Linked DNA regions of Homo sapiens: region 1 is linked to region 2. The links come from fine-mapping of genetic effects on gene expression. Tissue or cell type: whole blood. Region 2 holds a variant in brackets; the other region holds the start of a gene. All regions are shown on one strand. Distances are between the middles of the regions.

Region 1 (8,000 bases), 66 kb before region 2:
TGGGGGCTGCGAGACCCCCGGCTCGGGGCAGTGTTCTGCACCGGCCCAAGAATGGGTCCTGCAAGCAGTAAACTCTTTGGTGGGGACCTAGAGGGTTGGCGGGGGGGGAGGGAAGTGGAGAAGTGCGTGGGTGTCTCCCACTCTCTTGCAGGCAGGCAGCTTGGTCCCAGCAAGAGCAAAGATAAGATCTGAGACGGTATTTATTTATGGAAGGGAGAAAGCAGAGTGTGTGCAAATTTAATGCTTAGTAGGGAAAAAGCAGGAGACCTCCTATCTCCAGGGCGGGCCTAGGGAACAATTCCTGCTGAGCAACAACGCCTCTCCCCTCCCCCACCCCACTTACCCGCTCAACTCCCTCCCCACCCCCAACAGCCTCCCCAGGAAACGAGGCCACATTTAAGCCTGTTTTCTCCTTTTCTCCGACCTGCTGGAACATGGGTTCTTTCCCTTGGTGTAGACACGCTAGTAGGTCTCCCAGTTCCCTTCTCTACGGTGCAAGAGTGGAGGGGGGATGGAGAGTGGTGGGCAGCGGCAACCGAGCCAGATCCAAGAGGGGTCGGCCTCGTCTAAATTGGTTTCCCACCAATGGCCTCGGATCAGCCGCGGCTGTGCTGCGGGAGCCCTCAGGACGCGGCTGGGGTTGGTGCGCGGGGCCCCGGAACCCCAAACCCGGCTCGGTTCGGCAAGGTTCAGGGAGACAAGGTAGAGAAGGCTGGGGTGAGCGAGAAGTCGGGCGGCCGATCGTCAGGGCCACGAGCCTCGCCTTGCCTTCTTGGAATCCCACCCAACTTTAAAGGCCCAAAGATCCTGAAAATTCCGAAAGCGAAACTGCGAGCTGGTCTCCAGAAGTTTGAGAACGGTCTCCCAGGCTTTCCAGCGTCGTCCCGGGATTCTCGGACACCACAAACGCCATCAACCACGAGCACCGGTGTCCGTGGCTATTGCCCCGAATGGTCCCCATCCGCGTCCCCGGGAACTCCCTCGGCTTTTCGCGCATCCAGGTCCCCAGCCCCAGCTACTGGTGCGCCCCGAGCCCCTAGGTGCCAGAGCGGTGGTCGGCCGGGCTCCTGCCCAGTCTCGGCTCCTCCCTCCTCCCCACCAGAAGGAAAAACTTGGGCCCTTCGAGAACCCTGTGGAATGTTCTTTGTAATCAACTGTACATCCGCTTCCACGGCACGGCCTCGTGCAAAATCGCGGGTTTCGGGGCCTTGGAGCAAATTGCGCTTGTCAGCGGCGACGTCAGGAGGACAAGGGGAGGGGTTCGCGGCTGAAACTGCAGCTTCGCAGCACAGAGCCATTTTAGGCTGCTCCCCACCTCGCGGGGCCCATGGGAAAGCCGGCCCCGGGAGGGCGCGCCCAAACGCAGGCTGGAGGAGCCACGGACGCGTCCTGGCCGGCGTGTCGCCATCGTTCAGCCTCGCTGCCCAGGTGGGAGGGGTCACCTGCCGCGGGGTCTCCAAGCCAGTGCCGCTTGCTCCCGGCCCCCACCCACTGACAGCACGGCGTCCGAGTGACCCTGTCTAGCCTCGTTCTGCGCTCCTGCAAACCACGTTGCTGCGCTAACTACAAACCTGGCCAACATGTCTTTGTAACCCTATCATTTAAAAACGCTTCCAGGCACCTGGCCGCTGCCAGATCAGGTTCGCGGGCCCGGAGGAGGTCCTCCCACCTGCCCCCGCCAGCCCCGGGGACCGTGCGCGGCCTCCGTGTGGCCCCCGCCCACGAGGTCCCTCGGGCAGGAACCGCCGCGCGACCTCTGTTCAGCGGCCGCGTCCTGGCCACGGGCGACCCCTGTCGGGAACCCTGTTCCCGGCTAAGCTGCGTTCCCGCATTCCGGTGGCTCTCACCCGAGCTCGCGTTTGCTGGCTTTCCCTCTGGCTCCTCTGCCTGACCCCGATTTTGTCTCCGAACTCCACTCCCAGATCCTCCCCGCCCTGGAACGCCGACCTTTCCCCCGCACTTCGCCGCCCACTCACATCCCCCGGCGACTGCCCGGCCTCCATGCCCGCCAAGACAAGAAGATGCCCCTCTCCGATGCGCCGAGAGGGTTCCTAAGCCGAGCAAGGGACAATTTCTTCCCCAAACGCTGTCCCCATCCCCCACCTTCCCTAGAGCGCGAAACCCAAAAGTAAGGAAGGCAACCCCTCGCCTCGACCCTACGTGCTTGTCTCCCAGAGCCGCGCGCTCCCGCCCTTCTGCCCCACCCCACCACCACCACCACCACTTTGGTCTTCTCCAAGCTTCGGTCCCGGTCCCCCACCTCCCACCCCAGAGCGGCGTGGAGGAAAGCAGGAGCCCACTATTAAGTGCAGCGCGCCCCCTGCACACACGAAATCCGGCTGGCGTCTGCAGCCCGATTGCACCCAATACCCGGGACAGTTAGTCCTTTTAATAAGCACCTCCTCGCCCCACCTACTCGGGGATCTACCCGCGCAGGATCCAGCACACACAAGGCGAGAGCTAGCTCGTCTCCTAGAAAGACAAAATAAATCACTCCCTCTGCCCTCATGTACTTTACACCACGTGTCCGCAGTTTGTCACGTCAAATCATGGCAGGGTCTGGTTCCAAGACGCACACACACATTCGGGGTGGTTCTCTTTGACACACACACCCAAAAAAACTGCGCACACGCAGGCCTGCACACTAATCCACAGGCACACACGACAGTTGCGTTTCGGTGCCCTGGTCCGGGCCAGGGGCACTTCTCCATCCCTTTCCCCCCTAGCAATGGACTTGACACACAGACTCTAACCACGGAAAAAAAAAACCGGACAGCCCATTCCTTCTTTTTTTCCCCACTTAATTCGCTAAAGCGCTTCCTGGGGTAGCCAAAGAGAGTCGAAACTAAGGGGTGGAAACTTCAGCTGGGTTTTTTCCCACCTCAAAACCTTTATTTTCAGTTTTTAAAAGCCACCTTAGCCCGCCATATTGAAACTGGCACGGTTTCTAAAGACTCCTTCCCCGCAGTTGTGGCGCTTCCAAGAAAACACGAGTACGGATCAGGCTCTGGATGAGTGTCCGGCCACCGAGAATCAGCCACTTCCCACCCTCCAGGATCCCCCAGCTCCCTCCAGCCCCTTCCCACCGCCCCTGGTCAAAATCAATAAATACATCTCGCAGTTCCTACAGTTGCATTTTGGCGGATTTCTGCAAAACATACACACACATACACATACCCACGCACGCATATTAAAAAATAAACTCCAGAACCAGCTCAAGTCAGCAATTTTGAAAGGGGGTCGAATAAGAGGAGACAACCGGAAAGCCCCTAAGTGACAGGATATTACTTTAAAGAGAAAATAATGAACAAAAAGACCATCCTCGCTGGAGCACGCTCCAAAACTACTACTGCCAATTTTATTTCAGTTGCTCAGGCAAATGTTTCCAAGGGAGCGATTCCGAATGTCTGCACGATTTTTACCCCCATGCCGGTCTCCGATTCCCCGTCCTCACCATCTTTTTCTCCCACCCAAACCAAAAGAAAGGGGAGACCCCAGCGCGGAGGAGACGCGGGAGCGCGGGGTAGGTAGCAGCGGCGGCTGCGTCGCTAAAATGAGTGCAGAAACGAGGAAGGTGGGCGGCGGGAGGGGACAGGCTGCGCCCGGGGAAGGAGGACACTTTGCAACTCCGGACGGACTCCCGCACGGCTCGGCTTTTCCGAGCCCGGAGACGCAGGCGAAGGGGACCCGGGAAGCAAAAATGACAACCTGGAGCGCACAGAGGAGTTTGAAGCTTCGCTCAAGTGCAGTCGCTTTCTTCTCCTGCCCTTCTCTTTCGCTCCCCTGCACCCTCCCCAGCCTTCCCCCACCCGCCACCTCCAACCCCAGCTCCCTCAGGCTTCCTTCCTTTTTTTTTTTTTCCTTTTTTTTCCTAGGCTGGAAAAAGCCCCTGACCAGCGCACTCAACCTGCGGGCCGAAGGGCTGCTCTCCGGCCAGCCTGGGCGCCGGGGACAGCAGCCGGCGCGGCGTCCTACCTGGTGAAGTTCGTCCTGCCCTCGGCGTGGACCCAGGCCCCGGTCGCCGCCCGGGAGGGCACCGGCCTCGCTCGCTTGCTCGCTCGCCCGCCCTTGCCCGCTCGCTCCCCGCCCGCCGCCTCCCTCGCGCGCCCGCTCCGGTCCTCCGGCTCCCACTACAGCTCATTCCAATATGGCATCCTCTCTGTGCGCATGCTCGGCGCTCTTTTTTTTTTTTTTTTTTTTTTTTTTTTAAGATTTTGTGTGTGTGTGTATGTGTGTGCGTGCGCGTGCAGCGAACTCCTTCAACGACCTTTTCCAGCGCTTGCAAAATTTCTTAAGCCAATTAGCCTGCGGGACGTGATCGGCTCCTTCCCCAGCCAGCTCCGCGCCATTCCCTGCGCCTAAGCAGGCGGGCACCCCCAGGACCCTGGGACCTTCCACGCCCACGCGGCCTCCTCCCCACCGCGCTCCCCTTCCTCCTTTTTGTGAGCTCCCTCCATACATGATCTGCAGAAAGTTCCCATCGCGGGCGTTTCCGCACACCCCTCCGCAAGGACAACTGGGCAAACTCCCGTTTCCCTGGCTGCGGTTCGTGAGCTGGGTTTCCAATGGCTCAGTCGACCGTGTGCACAAACTTGCGCTTTATCCGCCGGGGATCGCTGGGAGCGGAGATAAATTCAATCCCCAGGGCAATCTTGGCCCCGCCCGCCCCACCCCATCCTGTGCTTAAATAGAGCCTTTCTTGAAGCTGCGAACATTTCCAGGCCCCTTGGGCAGGGCTGGAGGGGCCGAGGAGAGCTATTCGAGGGAAAGGTGCCCCGAGGGGCAGGAAATTAAGTTGGGGCTGCCCGGGCGAGCTGCCAGGTAGCCGTGCTCGCCACGGCGTCTCATGGGGCACCTAGCTAGTGGCGGGCCTCATAGGGCGGGAAAAGAATCGTCGCTCACACCCCAGCAAAACGTGGCCCTCGACGGTCCGTTGGAGAGCCCCGGCGGCCGTGAGCCCCGGGCAGGGCTGGACGTCTGCGGAGCCCTCGGGCACTTTGTCCCGGGCGCCTGGGGAGGAACGCGGAGCTCCCAGGGCCTTAGGTGCAACGGCTGCGCAGAGCCCAAACGAAATGTCCCCAGTGCGGAAAAGCCGGTGACGCCCTGGTAGCAAGACCAAGAGCTTCCGAAGAACGCTGCGCCCTTAACTAGGGGGCCTCGCAGAGATGCCTGTGTGGGCCTGCATTGTATATTTCTGCGAAATAGCGAATGGACACGTTTGCTCAGGGTTTTTATGGTTGCCAAAGGGGGTAAAATTACCCAGTCCCCCAAATCTGTGTCCCATGAATCCCTCTCATAGTACCCCTCTCCAGGGGGCCAAGAGGTCCTCCAGGTCCCCGTGGGTTCGCAGCTCCACCCGCCCTTCCTCGCCCTGCATCCCTAAGGAGAGGTGTCCGCTCTGAAGGGCTAGGGGCCAGCCATGGAGTGAGGGGACCGGGGCTGACCACGCGCGGCACAGACAGAGGTCCTCAGGCGGGCCCTCTCCTGGACGGTGGGGCCGGAGCTGATCTAGAAGAAATACGGAGGGACGTGCCGAGAAGCCGCTCTCCTTCGCCGCGACCCTGGAGAGCGCCTCTCCACCCAAAGGATCTGCCGAGCTGAGAGATCCAGGGCGGGCGTCCGCAGCCGTGAGGCCCCCTGCGCCGCCAGTATGGGAAGATCCTGCCTCCTTACACCTTGGAGAACGCTGGGCGACGACTAAAGCGCCTTCCGCCGGCCTGTCACTCCATGTGACACAGGAGCCACGTGAGACCCAGAAGAGTCCAGCGACTCGCCGCGCGGCGCACTTTAAACTCTAGCCTGAGTCTGCGACCCCTCCAGCTCTCCAGTCCCCAGCTGTTGGGGACATCAAGCCGGAGCCCTGGGCTCTCTGCCCTGTGGGTCGCTGAAAGCAGAGACTCCTCAAACCAACCGAACCGGGCGCATTAACCCTCTCGCCTGCACCCCGCTGCCTCCCGGTTGAGCCCCGAGGCGGCTCCAGGTAGAACCTGCTGGACTGACTGCGGCGTCCAGAAATCTGGAGTGTGGGCTCCAGACACTCTCCACGGTTTGGCCCCGGGTCTCAACACCCAAGTCGCCTCTTCTGGCTCCTTCACCACACAGCGGGGCCTGTGGAAAGGGAGGGGCCGAGAGACCCGTCGGCGCACCACTGTCCTCGAGGGGTCCCCACCCTGTGCACTGCTGAAGCGCAGGGCGCGCCGCGGCAGGAATGGCCCCGAGTGCGGATCCCCTGCCCTGAGCCTCCCACTCTTGGCCCGCGCTGCGCCTACCCAGTGGCCCTGGCCCCGCAGGGCGACAGCGGCTGCTCCCTCCCATTTGCGTCCCAGACCGCGCGGCCTCGCTTAGCTCCCGGGAGCCGACAGGCGCTTGCCCTGGTGCCAGCGCAGGGCTTCCCGGGGGCTTGGGGTAGGGGTAGGGGTGCGGGGGGGAAGGGGAGAACGTAATTTCCTTCTGCAGGAGTCGTGGAGACGTGAGCTGCAACCAGCCACCGCGCTCTCTCCAGGCTTGTTTACCAGTTTTAGGTCATCATTGTGCACGAAACATTCTTTCATCCAAATAAAAGCAAATGCAGAAGAACACCTGATCCCAAACAGTGTATGACTGCGTTCATTATCTTACCTGGTTACTCCGAAGGAGTTGAATTTTTTTAATGTTTTGGGTACGTAGACCCCGTATAATTTTGCTCCTGGGTCCACAAAATGGTGATTTTGGGGGAGGGTTACCTATCGTGATTAAGAAATATAATCAGGAAGTCGCAGCACACAAAGGTGGCATTGTTATTGTAAAAAAAAACTCCTTCCCTCCTATTTTTGTGTTGCTTTTTGCACGTGACTTTTTGAAGATTCCTTGATTTTCTTTTCTGCAACCGACCTCCATTCTCTTTTATCCAAGGGCACCAATGAGGCAAATGAAAATTGGTTAGGAGATTCCCTGAGGCAATTCAAGTGGCCCCTTCATCCCACTTCAATACCTTTCCACTTTCATTTTTATTTCAGAACCAGACACTTTAGGGATATATACCCAGATGTAGGTTGCACCCTAAATCAATTAAAGGTAGGAAAAAATTCCACATAGTCAGCAAAGGATAACGCACTGACAAAAATTGTGACTGCTTTTTTAAAGTAAAGAAGGCTTATGCACTCCAGCTCAAACAGGGTCATGAAAATCTCATTATCAACACAAGATTTTTCTCTATACTGTTAATATTTACTAAAAATCTTGGCCAAAATAAGCCTTTGATCACACTAACTATAGATATTATTTCACTCCTAAACTTTGCTTAAGCCATGAATTTCATCACTCTACAGATCAAGTTATCCCTTCACAGGGACTTTGGAATTCTTTAACATAAATGGGGCTAATTGGTTAATTGTAAAATATTTAGATGCTATTCCATTTGTCTAATGATACAGCACAAATTAGAAATATAAAATAACAATTGAAAAGTTTTTGTCTCATTTTCCTTATATTCCTAAGCATTACATCACAAAAACTATTGCAGAGGAGTTGAAAAATTATATGTGTACTATTTATTCTCTTTATATTTAGGACATGTGATTACTTAAATCTTGTTGCATTAGTCGTACCCAAGAAAAATGTTCAATTTGTACATACCTAGTCCATGTTTAAGTTATCACTTCCCACTGGGAAAAGGAAATGAACCAAAGAAAATAGAAGATAAACCATTATGCTTTCTTAATATAGAGACTCCCTAATGAACCATTAGACATACTAGCCTAACAGGAAAGCAGAAGGAGGAGAAAAAGAGGCCAGAACCAAATATTTGAAGAATTTGTACAACCTTCTCTTTACTGGAGCCTTGAAACCAAAACTTGTTTTTTCTTAGGCTACATAAGATAGTATTTTTCCATCAGGATCCTAAGGTCACAAAGAGTAAATCTAAATACACTCTGTCTTTTATTTTTTCACCTTTTTTCCTTATCTTCTATCCCCAATTAAAGCACTTAATGGTTAATGTATTGGGAGTCCAGTGACCTCAG
Region 2 (10,305 bases):
TCCTACATGGGCTTCAGCCTAGATAGTCACTGGGAACAGCAACCTCTCAGGGTTAAGCCAGGAACACTACAGTCATGCTGATCCTGAAACTGTTTCAAATATAGCCTGGAGTATTTAATACCTTTATAAACGGAAATGAAACTGGGTTAAAATAACGACCCAAACCAGATGGCGCAAATGTTCTGTTCTCTTCAGAAACTGAAAGAGGAACAAAAAAGAGACTCCTTCCCAAGGGAGCAGGTGCAGCTGCTGGGGAGCATCGGGGCTTTTCCTGAGCGCTGCAGACACCTACAGCCTGGGACCACGTGCTGCTCAGAATGCTCATTCTCTGATTTGTAAGCAATTAATATGGCTGTGACAGCAGCAATCCGGACACAGCAATGCAGAATTCTCAACACAATTCTACTTCCTAGCTCTAGTATTTGCTGAAATGTGCAACAACATGTTCTATAAATCAACTAAAATTTGTTGAGTGTTTACTGTGAGCCAGACACTGTTGTACCAGTATTACTGCAGTAACTCATTTAATCCTTACAACAATCTTACGAGATGGATTCATTTTTCCAAAAATGTACATTGAAACCTAAGCAAGTTAAGTAATATGCCCAATTCATAGAGCTTCTCACCAGAGTTTGGATTCAGGTCATCTGACTCCATAAGCCAGGTGTTTAGCCCTTACTCTCTTTTGCCAAACTGCTAGAATTATAAAAAAAACTGCAAAATGAAATCATTCATTCCTTGGTGTATTTGTTTTCTATTGTCACATTACCAGAAATTTAGCGGCTTTTAAAATAACACAAATTTATTTACTTACAATTTTGAAGATCAGAGTTTGGGGCTAAAATCAAACTGTTGGCAGAGCTTCATTCCTTCTTGAGGCTCTAAAGGAGAAGCTATTTCTTTACCTTTTGCAGCTTCTAAAGGCCGCCTACGTTCGTTAGCTGGTAGCCCCCTCCTCCATCCTCAGAGCTCGTCACTACAGCCTCTGATTTTGCCTCTGCATCTCCTTTCTCACCCTGACTGTCCTGCCAGTCTCTTATCAGGACCCTTGTGATTACACTGGGTCCCACTGAATAATCTGGGATAACCTCCCCATATCAAGTTCCTTAACTCAATCACATCTGCAAAGTCCCTTTGCCATCTAAGGTAACAGATTCACAGGTTCCAGGCCCTGGGATATGGACATCTTTTGGGGATGGTCATTATTCTAACACAAATAAGGAACTAATAAGCCCACCCATGTATCTGCATCATATGTTTCTTAAAAAGAAAAAGAAAAGAAAGAAGAATAAAACACAAGTCTGCAAGTTCATAAAGCACTTAGAAACTATCGGTGGTCAATATGGGGGTCACGTGGAATTGTCCACAATGTCTACTTCTTGGTAGGTTTGTACAAAATCAACAACTGTGAAAAGTTTCACATTAAATTCAAAATCAATAGCAGAGAGAGTTGAGAAAATCCCAAATATGTGGAATTAAACAATACATTCCTAATAACCAATGAATCAAAGAAAAAAAATCACAAGGGAAATTTGAAAATACTTACAGATGAAGGAAAATGAAAATACAACATACAAAAACATATGGAATGCCACAAAAGCTGCTCATAGCAGCAGCATTATTCATTATAGACAAAAAAAGTGGAATAATTCAAATGGCCATTAAATGATGAATGGATAAACAAAATGTGGTATATTCAAACAATGGAGTATTATTCAGCCATTAAAAAGGAATGAAGTGTTGAGACATGTTATGACATGAATGAACCTTGAAAACACCCTGCTCAGGGAAAGGAGCCAGGCACAAAAAGCCACATATTATGATTCCATTTATATGCAATGTCCAGAATAGGCAAATCCATAGAGACAGAAGGTAGGTTAGCAGTTGCCAGGGGCTGGGGGGAGGGAGGAATGGGGAGGACCTTGGTGCCTCACCAGAGCACACACCAGCTAACCTGTGATGGCCATGTGGCATGAATGAGAAACAGACATTTGCTGTTTTATTTAATTTTTTAATTTTTTTTGGGGGAGGGGGACAGAGTTTTACTCTTGTCACCCAGGCTGGAGTGCAATGGCGTGATCTCGGCTCACTGCAAACTCTGCCTCCTGGGTTCAGGTGATTCTCCTGCCTCAGCCTCCCGAGTAGCTGGGACTACAGGAATCTGGCACCACACCCAGCTAATTTTTTTTTATTTTTATTTTTAGTAGAGATGGGGTTTCACCATGTTGGTCAGGCTGGTCTTGAACTCCTGACCTCAGGTGATCTGCCCACCTCGGCCTCCCAAAGTGCTGGGATTACAGGCATGAGCCACCGCGCCCAGCCCATTTGCTGTTTTAAACCAGTGAGATCTGGGGCCTTGTTTATTATCATGGAATTCTAGTCCGTCCTGATTAACAGAGGGTAATGGATAACCCGAGGGCATTTTTCCAATATCCCAAAGGGATGGATAATTAATTACGCCCCCCCCCCCTTCTATTTGGAAATTTCACTGCAAGTTCTTCTAAGTACTCTTAGGACAGGCAACAGCTGAGTGGTCCCGATGAGCCCAGGACATCTCTGATTATTTGAATGGACTTCTCTTTCCCCTCCAGGTGCAGCTGGCTGTAGCAGAATGTGGTTTGAGAGTCCCAGCAGCGCCCTGAGGCCTCTGCCTGCTGAGTTCCTCCCATGAGTCTTCAGTCTCCAAGAACTGAGCTCTACTCTCACGGGCCCCAGCCTCACTCACAGGGACCCTCCAGTCACCTTTTTTATTTTCTATTTTTATTTATTTTTTTGAGGTGGAGTCTCGCGCTGTCACCTAGGCTGGAGTGCAGTGGCGTGATCTCAGCTCACTGCAACCTCTGCCTCCTGGGTTCAAGTGATTCTCGTGTCTCAACCTCCCCAGTAGGTAGGATTGAAGGCGTGCGCCACCACGCCCGGCTAATTTTTGTATTTTTAGTAGAGATGGAGTTTCGTCATGTTGGCCAGGCTGGTCTCGAACTCCTGACCTCAGGCAGTCACCTCCTTTAGATGATGGCCTTTCTTTGGGGGTTTCTCTGTTGTCCCCACCTCTGCCACTGTCCCTGTATTCTACCCTGCCTCCCTAATCTACCCACCCTGGACTAGACTGAAAGACCTGGACCTGGATTGAATGTGGAACATCTCTTACCGGACTTGGTTGTAGGAATATGACCATGCATTCATTGCAGATGCAAGTTAAAGAAGAATATTTTAAATATTGTTGGCTTAAGCCAGGCGGCAAAATATTCAAACATAAAATCTCAGATGCAGCCAAATCAGAACAGCGTGTTCTGGTGACGCGTTTCGGCAAACGCAATCATTCACGGGCTCCTCTGAGCCTAATTAAGCAAAAGCCCAGCTGGGGGCTACAGGAAAAACAACTGTGGATTCTACCTTCATTGCAACAGGTTACAACTGCTGATTTATGCCTCTCGGCAGGAACAACTGGCCCTGGGCCAGGGAGATCACGGAGGCAGCCAAGGAGCCCATGGGTTGCCCCCCTATCCCGGTCCACCCCACGGTGAGGACAGTGCCCTCAGTCACCAAATGCTCAGGATTTACATGAAGTGGGGTAGTCAGAAACTGCAGAGAGTCCATGGAAAGATAGGGGTCACCTCTTGGGGACAGCCAGGACCAGCCCTGCACTGAGTCAACACTTCTGCTGTTCTGCCCCTGAGCCTTTGCTCCCCCATCTCTCGCCGGTCGTTTCCTGCCAAGCGTCTGGTGCCTTCCTGCTGATCCCAGCTGTTTCTTCCCAGGGGCGTCCTAGCAACCATTCAGCCCTTGCATCCTTTCCTTTGAAAGGCCACCAGTCTCCCTCCTTCCCTCGAGCAGGAGGACCGCAGAGCGCACCCTGACGGAAGCGTTCACACTCAAGTGTTTATGGTTGCGTGTCTTCTTGCACAGGGATGTCTGCGTTTCCAATACCGGCTTCTGGACAGGACTCACTCCGAGAAATAAATGTGTAATGGATATTTCTTTTCTAGAACAAATGGGGTGGAAGTGGGAGTTTTGGCATCTCTTGAAATTTCATTTCGAGGTAAAATTTCATTTTGAGGTAAAATTATGAGAATTTCATTTCATTGTAAGGCCGTTCTTGCTGGCCAACTGAAATGTGTGTTGGAAGAAATGCAAGGGGCTCTTACGAAGCAGATGTTCAGGGCAGCACAGACGCTCATAGGCTCAAGAGCAGACAGACAGGGAAGGAGCTAAAAAGGGAAAGCTTTTTCTCAGATAGCACAGCTAGTTCCTAAGACTAAGGGTCATGCCCCAGCTGCTGCAGCATTTTCCCAAGTTCTCTGTTTCTTCTAAAATCACACATTTTCTCAGTGCTTTTTGGCTTACTACCTTTAATAGGCATATAAACGTTTTAAAAACTCATATCAGTATTGATAGCTTTCCTATAGATTAAACGTATTCTTAAACTCCCACTGCCCACATCCACCAAATAGAAACACAATGAATTTTAAGGCAAAAGCACTCCTTGCTTTAAGGTACCCGTAATATTACCCGCTGTGATATTGTTGTCTGTCCCACTATAAATCGTGTCCCATTATTATGAATAATTATCTTTCAATAAGGGTTAATTTAGAATTCTACACTCTTTCTTTTTTTTTTTTAAATTAAAATGTGTGGTGGCTCACATCTGTAATCCTAGCACTTTGAGAGACTGAGGCCAGGAGTTCCAGACCAGCCTGTCTCTACAAAAAAAAATAAAATTAAATTAAAATTAAAATAATAAAAAAAAATTTTAATTAAATGTGTGTGCCCTTACTGTACTTATTTTCTCTTTATGAAAATGTATATTTTTTCTTATGACTTAAACACCACGCTAGGTTTTATTACAGAAAATCTAGAAAACAGAAATTATAAATAAGAAAAATCTTTCTGGCTGGGTGCAGTGGCTCACGCTTGTAATCCCAGCACTTTAGGAGGCCAAGGCAGGCGGATCACCTGAGGTCGGGAGTTCAAGATCAGTCTGGCCAACATGGTGAAACCCTATGTCTACTAAAAATACAATAAATTAGCCAGGCATGGTGGCATGTGCCGGTAATCCCAGCTGCTTGGGAGGCTGAGGCAGGAGAATCGCTTGAACCTGGGAGGCAGAGCTTGCAGTGAGCTGAGATCGTGCCACTGCACTCCAGCCTGGGCCACAGAGCGAGACTCTGTGTCAAAGAAGAAAAGAAAAATCTTTCGTAAGTGCATGACAAGGAATTCTCCCAGCAATTTATTCTCAGCATATATATGCGTATATATACATATTTTTTAAAAAATCAGAATCACACTATATTTAGTGCAAACTTTTTTTGTCATTTAGTAGAGTGTATTTTTTTCTAATGTTCAATATTCTGCTGTGTGATAGACATGCCAAATCCATCTCTAGACTCTATCCTTTCCCCTGAATTTAACTGGAAGAGTTGACCCTATGCACCATGTGATCCCAATTCAGAACATCTCTTCACTTATGCCCACCAAATACCTTCCCCACACCCGTGATTGGACCAGGTCTGGATTAGACTCAAATTGAGTCAATCAGAATCTCTCTCCCAGTAATTTGGAATTAGTCTGTTGCTAGGGTCTGTTTGTGTTTCCCTAAATTCATAAGTTGAAAGCTATTCCCTCAGTGGGATGGTATTAGGAGGTGAGGCTTTTGGGAGGTGATTAGGTCATGAGGGTGGAGCCCTCATGAATGGGATTGGGGCCTTTATAAGAGAGGCCCCAAAGAGATTCCCCACCCTTTTCACCGTGTGAGGAAACGGTGAGAAGGTGGGTGCCTGTTAACGAGGAAGTGGGCCCTCACTAGACACTGAGTTTGCTGGCAACTTGGTCTTGGACTTCCCAGCCTCCAGAACTGTCAGAGATAAATTTCTGCTGTTTATAAGCTTTCAGTTTATGGTATTTTGTTATAGCAGCCAGAACTTACTGAGACAGGCCTGTAAGGCTGAGTCCCTTAGACCATGATGAAGGCCTGTGTGCTGTACAGTTGAACAGCGTCCGGGCAGACACGGCTAAAATCCAAAGAATGTGCTCCATGCAAAGGGAATTCATGAGGGAGTGGA[G/C]ACAGCATGAGTAGGCCAAGTGAGATTATCTAAAAAGAGAAGCAGAAAATGAGAGTAGACCTGTTGAGAGAGGCAGGGACAAGATGCCACAGGTGTTCATGGATGAGACAGTGGGCAGCCCTAACACCTGCTCCACGCCCCACGTGCACTGGCTGAACTTCTCATCCTCATGAGTTTGCTTGTTTTGACTTTTGAGTAATTTGCGTTTTTACTTACTTTACTCATTCAAGTCGATTTCACCTGAAGAGCACTGACTAAGAAAATCATAGTTACTTTAATAGCTGCCTAGTTTTCTAGTGTATAAATATACCATAATTCATGTAATCAAGTCCTTTTTGGTTAGATATTAAGATGTTTCTATGTCTTAACTATTCTATTTAATAAAGAACACTATAATAACTATCATTCCAACTAAACGTTTGCAAATATTTCCTTAAGGTCAAATATGCAATCAAATGGGATTGCATCAGATGAGAAACTATGGGTCAAGAAAATTAATATCATTTGTGCATTTCATTCCCGGTAGCGAGATGTCTGAACATTTCTGTTTTCTGCATCCTCGCCAATATTAGGTTGACTACTGAAAAAAGAAACAATTCTGCCAATTAAAGTAGTTAAAAATGTTGTCTCCTCATATTAATTTAGATTTCTTTGATGCCTGGAATTGCACATACTTTCCTCTATTTATTGCTCAGTTCATTTTCTTCCAATACGAAATGTTTATTCATGTCTTTTACTCATTTTCTTCTATTTAGATGCTCATTTATATCTTTTTGATTTGTGAGTGCTCTCTCTCTCTCTCTGTGTCTGTCTGTCTCTCTCTCTCTCTCTGTCTCTTTGGTTTTGCTTTTGGCTTTCGGTTTGTTTTTTCTCAAAGACAATGTCTCACTATGTTGTCCAAGCCAGATTCAAGCTCCTGGGCTCAAGCAATCCTTCCATCTCAGCCTCCTGAGTAGCTGGGACTGCAGGTGTGTGCCCCTACCACCTGACAGGATATTAAACTTGATTCCTACACACTTGAAATTTATCTTCTCCTATCTAGTTATGTGCCTCTGAATTTTATATATGAAATATTTGATAGACATTAAAAATATATTTGTATAGTCATGTGTTGAGATATTTTCTGTTGTACTTTAGTCCTTTGATGTCATAACTAGAAAGTAGTTCATCTGCCTAAGATTATATAATCATATACTTTCATTTTTAAGAAGACACATTAAAAAGGAAATGAAATACCATAGCACTTAGAAATCAAATACTTAAAAGACATAAAATAGAGACAGAAAGCAACACATACTAAAATAAAGACAAATCCATCACCAAGCCACCTTTAAATTTCAGCGATACTGAAAGTTACCAATTATGAAACCATTCTCCCTATAGAAAAAATAAAGCAGATGTTTTATCTCAGAATAAAATTCGTTTTAAAACTATTTCCATCCTGCCTTAGACTTGCCTATATTATTTAAGTCATTAAAAAGTACCAAGGGCCAGGCGCAGTGGCTCACACCTGTAATCCCAACACTTTGGGAGGCCGAGTTGGGTGGATTACCTGAGGTCAGGAGTTCGAGACCAGCCTGGCCCACATAACAAAACCCCCTCTCTTGACTATTTTTAGTAAAATACAAAAATTAGCCGGGCATAGGGGCTCATACCTGTAATCCCAGCTACTCAGGAGACCTAGGCATGAGATTTGCTTAAACCCAGGAGGTAGAGGTTGCAGTGAGCCAAGATCACGCCACTGCACTCCAGCCTGGGTGACAGAGTGAGACTCTGTCTAAAAAACAAAAACAAAACAAAACAAAAAAACAACGATAAAGAAAAAGAAAGAAAACAAAAAAAAGTACGACGAAAAAAAATAAGACAGGAGATATTAATTCACGTAGCCAAGACTCAACTGTTTCTCTTTTTCCTGTGGATAAAACTGCAGAGAGGCAGTGATGAGAGAAAATCTACTCTAGCTCTCCAAATTTATACGACCCCATTTGTTGGTGTGGCGAAGCAAGAAGAGGGGTTATTTGGATGTGACGTGTTGTCATCTGGCGAATTGTGGGGTTCCTATTCAGAAACATCCCTGGAGAGTCTGAATTGTGGGCTATGGACGCTGCATAGAGCCTCGAATTCACATGATTAGTCTTATTATCATTTTTTTTGTCTTGTGGCTAGAGAGAGGAGCAAAATTATGCCCCGTGGGTTGCAAGAGTTGTTCAGTCATGAGATGTAGCAGGGACCCGGGATGGGAAAGGGTGGGGATGGGAGTAAAAGGCGAGAGAGAAACCAGGGGAAATCAAGGGCATGTTGCAAACCAGCTGATGTGGGGTGTTCTGTAACTGAAGGTGGTACTGTTACCCCATTCTACAGATGAGGAAACAAAAGCTCAGAGAGGTCTAGTAACTTCCCATGGTCACACAGCCAGTGAGGGAAGAAGTTGGGATTTGGAAAACATGATGTTGGAAATAACAAGAATAAGTGAAGACACTGAGAAGGATCAAAATCCAACATGAACTAGGTGGTGAGGACCAGCTTTGTAATTGAGGGGGGGCTCTTGTGGCTGATCCTGATGGGCAGTGTTCAGACGGCCAAAGTTTAGATTTTAGCTCTGAATTCTATCTATTCAAGCATACAATGCATGTCTTAGTAAGAATGGCTTCAACTGGTATGCTAACTTTTTAGGTCCTTTCATTTTATTCTGACAACAATCCTTGCGGGTAACCCAGTACCTATTTTAACACTTTGCTTCAGAGTTAGAAGTTTTTATGAATTGATTTTATGGAAGAATTTTTGTAAGTATGTTTAAATGTTATGCCCTGGTTATCAAACAAGACCCAAGCCTAGTCAGGCCTCTTAAGCATGGAGAGAGATGAGCCTTCTCAGCGATCTGCGCCTTTAAGGAGGGCTCCGCTCTCCTGTCTGCATCCCGGTGCTGCATATAAATGGCCTCTGTGGCTTCAGCCTGCTTATTTCCATTCAAAGTGTACACTCTGCTTTTTCCCCAAAGTAAAAGCATTTCCAGGAGCGCCAAGCACATCTCTTTTTTGTAGACTTCCTCTTGGCAGAGTGAATACTGCTGATTTATAAATTACATGGAGGTGTGCAAAGGAGATCAAGGTTCAGTGGATGTGAGCCCACATATGGCACCTCCCACAGGCCCAGACGCTGCCCTTAATTCTCAGCTCATCGCTTCTGCCAACCTTGTCAGTTCTGGCCACTCAAGCGGCACTCTGATCAAAGCAAAAGTAGTTGTCTTCCTCTTAGAAAAGAGGAAATAGGGTTCTTCCTTTTGCAAGTTAACATACTCAAAGCATCATTTCCCTTGTTGAATTTTTCCTAATCCTTATTTGAAATAGGCTCCTATGCCTTCATAGGGGGCCATTTTCATTGGCGAAGAAATTGTCCTCTGTTTTTTTGTTTGTTTGTTTGTTTGTTTGTTTTTACTATCAGATGCAGAACTCTATTTGAATGAAATCTTTATAGGAAAGAGGACATGCCTTCGATGACCACATTCCCCTCCCATAATCTGATGCTAGAATGCAGTGGAATGCACATTGCTTCTCATCACAAATAGCCACTGAAAAGGAGAAATTCTTGGCATTGTGGACTCACTACTTCCTGTGGATAATTACTAGAAATATACGCGTGTGCATGCATGTATGTTGTGTATGTGCCTGTCCAACATGCTGGGTCAAACTTTTGGATCTTTGAATCATACTGACTATGTGGAATACAAACATGATACCGCACCCTGTGGATCGTCACAGTCTCCCTGTTTCTCTCGGCAATGCTGGCTGGTTGTCTCACCAGTTAATGAATGAAAGAAGAGGGAAAGGGAAGGAAAGGGGATGAAGAGGAAGAAGAGGAGAGATGGCAGGAAGCTCTGACATACACAGCCCCACTCACTGGCTCACTTTCCAGCCTCTGCTGTTATTCCTTCCTTCTGGGCTCATACCCTGGGTCTCCAGCCAACTGGTGATGAGAGTCCAGGGACTTTACTGCCTTTTCACCTGTCTGGTGTCTCAAAACAGAGAACTGCAGCCCAAGACCATTTTACCTTTGCAGTAGAATGTGAGAATTAAAACTGATCTCGGCTGGACACGGTGGCTCACGCCTGTAATCCCAGCACTTTGGGAGGCTGAGGCGGGTGGATCACCTGAGGTCAGGAGATAGAGACCATCCTGGCTAACATGGTGAAACCCCATTTCTACTAAAAATACAAAAAATTAGCCGGACATGGTGGCGTGTACCTGTA

The links. PIP is the estimated chance that this variant, and not a neighbour inherited with it, causes the effect.
Region 1: it holds the start of SFMBT2, and the variant in region 2 is fine-mapped to the expression of SFMBT2 in whole blood (TOPMed, PIP above 0.99).

Annotation. Positions count from the first base shown.
Region 1 is chr10:7,406,886-7,414,885 of GRCh38, forward strand. It overlaps SFMBT2 (Scm like with four mbt domains 2), which reads right to left and starts at 4,149. Exons shown (of 21, transcript NM_001387889.1): 1 at 3,976-4,149. RefSeq lists enhancers at 1,024-1,919, 1,967-2,046, 4,398-5,318, 5,319-6,238 and silencers at 1,467-1,806, 4,023-4,162.
Region 2 is chr10:7,471,956-7,482,260 of GRCh38, forward strand. It overlaps LINC02642 (long intergenic non-protein coding RNA 2642), which reads right to left and starts at 894. Exons shown (of 4, transcript NR_184109.1): 1 at 815-894. RefSeq lists enhancers at 33-232, 243-342, 8,902-9,141. The variant G/C (reference allele first, on the strand shown) is at 6,060.